Linked DNA regions of Homo sapiens: region 2 is linked to region 1. The links come from fine-mapping of genetic effects on gene expression. A gene starts in region 1. The other region holds a variant in brackets. All regions are shown on one strand. Distances are between the middles of the regions.

Region 1 (3,012 bases):
CCGCCCACCTGCCTCGTCTCCCTGGGGAGGTGGTCCCACTGGGACACACAAACACCCAAACAGAAAAATACAAATACACGTACCCCAGGAAGGGGTCCCTCAAGTCTCTGCTATTTACAGAAGTTTCTTCAGTAGGCAGACGAAGAGTGTGTTGGGGCAAAGGGGCTCGGTTGGAGGCATTTCCCATAAGACTGAGCCCTCTCATGGGGGTTTTGAGTTTGTAGTGCTGAGCCTGCATCTGTGCCTCCCAGCCCCCTGCACTGAGGGAGCAAGTTGCCCACATGCCCGCCAGCCAGGGCCTAAAGCAGATGGCATGCTCAGTGCCAGGCTGGTAGCTGGGCCTGTTTGGGTCCCTGGAGGCTGTGGCTGCTGTCATGGCACCTCACTCCCTCAGCTCTTGCCAGCTTCTCTGACACTTGGGTTGGGGGCCCTTCCAGGAGGAAACCCCCTTGGGTGCCCCACACAGGGCTCTCCATGATGGGAACCAGTGGTTAGTGGCTTCAAAGGCCCAGCTGACACCCTCCACAGCCTAAGGGGTGTCCTAAAGTGCCTCCCCCTGTATTCCCCCTCCCAGGGCAGCCCCTGCCCAGCACAAAACCCCAGGACCCTGGCTCTGCACGCCTGGGGCAGGGACTTTTGAGTTTAGGATCTGTATTTTCTAAGTCCCCAGTTCTCCTGGCTCTCCTTTCTGAAATAAAGGATTGAAAACGGTTCCTGTTCAGACTGAGAACACTTTGTAAACTTGCTGAACAGTAGCCAGGTTGAGTCAGGTGGGCACAGGTCAGACATTGGGCCTGGGGGTCGGAGAGGGTGCAGCCTGGGCCCCAAGGCAGACCCAGGCCTTGTGTGGCAAGGAGACTGCAGGGTTCCTCACCCAGGCACAGGCAGGCTCTGCCCAGGGGGTTGGTGTTCGGGGGTGTCAGGCCCAGACTGGCCCCTCCGGAGGGGCCTGGCTGCCAAGGTGGGCAGCATCCCAGGAGGCCCTTGTGACCATCTGGGCTGGCAGGGAGGCTCTGTGAGAACAAGGTGGCGGGTCATTTCCTGTTGCCTCAGAAGTCAGGAGTAGAGGGGCTGGCAGGGGCTCGATGAGTGCCTACCGTGTGCCAGGGACTGTGCCAGGCCCCCCACAGTGTTCTGCTGTCCCCCAGAAGCTGGTGTAGGCTGCACAGTTTGTGAGTGCAGACCCCGGATTTAAGACCTCTGAGCAGCGGGGAAGGCTTCCTGGAGGAGGTATGCCTTTTGAGATGGATGCAGCAGGTTCTGTGAGGCTGCCAGGAGGGGTAGAGTTCCCGGGGGCCTCGGGCCCCGCTGGAGTGTGGAGCAGGCCCATGCTCAGCTCTCCAGGCTGTTCGTGGCTCCCCTGTCAGCTGCTCACTCCTTTCCAGAGACAAAACAGGAATAATAGACATCATTAAATATACATAGGGCCCCAGGCGGTCGGCGTGGTGGGCTGGGCCTCCCTTCCCCATAACACTGAGCTGCTCTGCTGGGCCAACCGTGCTCCTGGGCCAGCCAGAGGACCCCCATGAGGCGGCATGCAGGCGGGGAGCAGGCCACAGAACGCAGGTAAGGAGACCTTAGCCTAGAGTCCTTGGGGTCTGTCACTGGCCACCCTCGCATCCCAGGCTGCAGGGGTGATAAGGGAAGGGGCAGCAGCAGAGCTGGGGCCTCGCCCCTAACTCATCTTGAGGCCCTTCTCTGCCTCACTTTGTTCATCTGTGAGGGGTGTGATGCCCATGCAGTCCCCTCCTGGCGATGGTGGGATACCAAGACAGGCAGGGCCTCTGTGGCTTACCTCGGCCCCTCTCCTGACTGTCCTGATGCCTGGCCATGAGGCCCTAAGTGAGGGTTTCTGCCTGGCTGGTGGCCATTCCCACTTCCACTTTACAGGTAGGGGCTCTGGGCCCAGGGTGAGGTAGGGAAGGCCTTGAGTTCACAGGGTGTCAGGGTGAGTCCAGACCTTGGATTAGATCCAGACCTGTTTTGTCCCCAAGGCTGGCTGGCAAAGGGTGGGAAATGAGGCCAGAGGCTGGGGGTCCTCAGGCAGTGAGGGCTCAGGTGAGAGGCTCCAGCCACTGGGCCACAAGTTCCTCACCGTGGATGGGCTTGTTCCTGGGCTAGATCTGTGTGCGCGTGGATCAGGGCAGGCACTGCGGCTCTGTTATGTCCTGGGCTTTCTGGATCTGTGGTCAGGATGGTTGCGCAGTCTACATTTGCTTGTGAGAGAGCGAGCAAGGGATCCTGCAGCTGCGTATGCCCAGGTCAGTGTGAAGTGGCAGCTTGCGGTGCCTTTAGGGCTGGGGAAGCTCCCTAAGACCCCCCAAAGGTCTCTGACCCTCCCATCCCCGCACCTGGGTAAGCTCCAGGCTTGGGCCTCACCCTGTCAGCCACCTTGTTCTCATCACCCTCCCTGATGATCACAGGCAGGGGTCTGCACCCTCACTCAGGCCCATGCCCAGGCAGCAGAGTTGCATTCATCTCCCAGCTGGCATCCCTGCAGCCTCCCGGGGGTAGTATGGCCTGCAGCTTTAGAAGACTCAGGTACATAGGAGCCAAAGACATGAATATTCATCTATCTGTCCCACACGTGTGCGTTCACTCATTCTCCGTCTTTCTTCCTCTCCAGCTTAGATTCCACAGTTTCTCATTTCGGAACCCTCCTTTGGCAAGAAAGCCGAGTCGAGACCCTCTCCTTCCCACTCTGTCCCTCTCCTAGACAGCTCACCTGACCTCCAGCTTCCATCTCGCCAGACCTGGGTCCGAGCAGCCTTTTTGACTCTCCACTGCACTGTCCTGTAGCCATCCCAAGCCCACCGTGTCCCAGACCAAACATGGCGTTCCCATACCCCCGGCCTCACCTCAGAGACACTCCCCGCACCCCCCAGCTGCACCAAGCCAACCCCAAGACTACTTGTCTCCACCCTCATCCCAGCCCCATCTAGCCTCTCACCAGGGCCAGCCTGTTTCACCTCATCCTGAATGTGTCCGCTGTACACCATCACAGCATGCTCC
Region 2 (2,500 bases), 28 kb after region 1:
TAGCCTATCTAGTTCAAAGCACATTCCTGTTGGTATTTTGCATAGACGGATGCACAGGAGGTGGCCTCAGTGGTGAGTGCCCGAGAGATCCAGGCCGTGGCAGAGCTGCTGCAGATCTCCCCTGAGGGCCTGCAGAAGGCCATCACCTTCAAAGTGACCGTGAGTCTGTGGGCATCTGGCCTTCGAACAAAGCTTTCTACCAGGGCCTGGACAGAGCTGCTTGTGCCGATCCTTTGTGGGCAGCCTCTCCCTCTCTCCTGCTCTCTCTGTCCCTGGGTCAGGCATGGAGGGGAGTAATTTCAGACCCCAGAGACATTTCAGATTCCAGTCTCAGACTGTTGCATAGGCTGTTTCCTCTACCCGGAATGCTCTTCCTCTTTTCACACCTACTCATCCTTTAAGACCCTATCCAGGTATCCCCTCCTCTAAGAAGCCTTCCCTAATCTTTGGACGGGTCAGTGCCTCCTCTGGTCTTTCACAGTCCTAGGCCCATTCTCCCTTCCCAGGGTTGATCTCATTGTATCTGCTGATGCCTCTGTCTCCCCCATTAGACCTGCAGTCCCCACTACTACCAGCATTTCCAGGCAGAGTCAGAGTGGGGGCAGGGGTGGTCCTGCCTAGTCTCTGTGTGCACAGTCACAACATCCCTCCAGCCTCCCTTCTCCATGATCCCACTCCCTTAGTCCCCTGGGGGCTTTCCGGAGGCAGAGTGGCCAGCCTGATGTCACTCAAGGGCTGTGCCCGTCCCTAGGAGACAATGCGAGAGAAGATCTTCACGCCCCTAACTGTGGAGAGCGCTGTGGATGCCAGGTGAGGCCACGCCCTCCCCTGCCTGAGCCCCGAGGCCCAGCACCCCACCACGGTGTCCTGCTCACACCAGCACCACCTCTGCTCCAGGGACGCCATCGCCAAGGTCTTGTATGCACTGCTGTTCAGCTGGCTCATCACCAGGGTCAACGCGCTGGTGTCCCCAAGGCAGGACACACTGTCCATCGCCATCCTGGACATCTATGGTTTCGAGGTGGGGCCGTGTAGGAGGCTGAGGGGCGGGGGACATAGGCAAGGTCTCGCCTCCCTCAGGCGTCTCGGGCTGCCCTTCCCATCCCTTTCTGTGCCTGCAGCAGGTGCCATCCTCCCTTCATGGACCCCTCCCTGTCACCATCTCCCTTGTCTCCTTCCATTTTCTTTACTCACCACAAGTACTCCCAAGGCCTCTGGGCCAGGCCCTGTGCTGGGCAATACCAGCTGCCCAGAAAGGACCAGCCAGGGCCCTGCCCTTGGGGAGCTTCCAGGTGAGGCTGGGTGGGGAAGGCTTCCTGGATGAGGATGAGACACTCCTGAGACCCAGCAAAGGCACTGTAGGTGCAGGGAACAGAATATGCAAGGGCTGGGAGGGGTGGCGGGTCATGAGGTCTGGGACTGGA[C/T]TTCGTGTGTTGGGGGGTGACTGTTTTGTGAGTGCACAGCAAAGGAAGTGGTGAGGGACAGGGCAAGATCACCATGCAGCCATCACAGGCACTCACGTGGCACCTGTTATGTGCCAGGTGCTGTTTAAAGCACTTTGTTAATTCACTTCATCCTTACAGCAACCCTATGAGGCAGGTACTGTCAGTATCCTCATTTTACAGATGGGGAAACTGAGGCATGGGGCTGTTATTCAAGGTTATGTAGCTAGAAAATGGCAGAGCCAGCATTTGAACCCAGGCAGAAGGCCCCAGAGCCTTGGCCTTCAGGCACTGCCTGTGCTGTCAGGACAGAGCCTGTCAGATTCTGTCCTGGGTGCAGCAGGAGCTGTGGAGGGTTGTGAGCTGAGGGCCTGTGGCTGAGCTCCAGCTTTTTGAAGTTGCCACCAGGGAAGGTAGGGGCAAACAGGCTGGTGGCCAAGGAAGGACCAGTCCCAGCACCCCCATCCACCTGGCAGGACCTGAGCTTCAACAGCTTTGAGCAGCTGTGTATTAACTACGCAAACGAGAACCTTCAGTACCTTTTCAACAAGATCGTCTTCCAGGAGGAGCAGGTGTGTGGGCCCCATTAATACTCCTGTCCCTGTCTTGACTGGCCAGTGGACCTCCTTGGAGACAGATGAGGATATACTGGTTGTTTAAGGGCAATTCTGACATCAGTAGACAGTAGAGGGAAAGGCATTCTAAGCTGGGGACCAGCCCATGGGAAGGCCTCTGTTCTGGAGGGAAAGGTGCTGAGGTGCTGTGCTCAGAGAGGAGTCCCCTTGGTGGGGGTCCTTCTTCTCCTCTACTGGGCTGTCCCAGGCAGAGGGAGCAGCAGGACCCTGAGTTGGCTCATGCTGCCTTATTAGGGGGTGAGCTCCCTGTTCTGGGAGGTATGCAAGCAGAGGTGCTGCTGGCCAGGCTCCTTCAGATTCAACATGGGAGGGAGGGTGGGTGGGCCCTGGACAGGGATGGGAGGTTGAGCTCCTGCTGCCCACTGCCTGCAGGAGGAGTACATCCGTGAGCAGATAGACTGGCAGGAGATCACCTTTGCTGAC

Direction of the effects. Positions count from the first base shown, and alleles are read on the strand shown. Sizes are in standard deviations (SD) of each study's normalised expression.
For the expression in sigmoid colon of the gene that starts at base 1,498 in region 1, C is the low allele of the variant in region 2 and T is the other (small effect, 0.36 SD a copy in GTEx).

What was found. PIP is the estimated chance that this variant, and not a neighbour inherited with it, causes the effect.
Region 2: its variant is the best candidate, but not a certain one, in a credible set for the expression of MYO15A in sigmoid colon (GTEx, PIP 0.68).

What each region holds. Positions count from the first base shown.
Region 1 is chr17:18,107,259-18,110,270 of GRCh38, forward strand. MYO15A (myosin XVA) reads left to right here and starts at 1,498. Exons shown (of 66, transcript NM_016239.4): 1 at 1,498-1,566. It overlaps DRG2 (developmentally regulated GTP binding protein 2), which reads left to right. Exons shown (of 13, transcript NM_001388.5): 13 at 1-711. LOC105371566 (a long non-coding RNA gene) reads right to left here. Exons shown (of 3, transcript NR_164159.1): 3 at 433-1,377. RefSeq lists an enhancer at 1-441.
Region 2 is chr17:18,135,666-18,138,165 of GRCh38, forward strand. MYO15A (myosin XVA) reads left to right here. Exons shown (of 66, transcript NM_016239.4): 13 at 46-159; 14 at 752-810; 15 at 898-1,021; 16 at 1,919-2,014; 17 at 2,450-2,500. Among named protein-coding and RNA genes, the nearest start is that of MYO15A, 28 kb to the left of the region's middle. RefSeq lists enhancers at 1-445, 446-1,439. The variant C/T (reference allele first, on the strand shown) is at 1,425.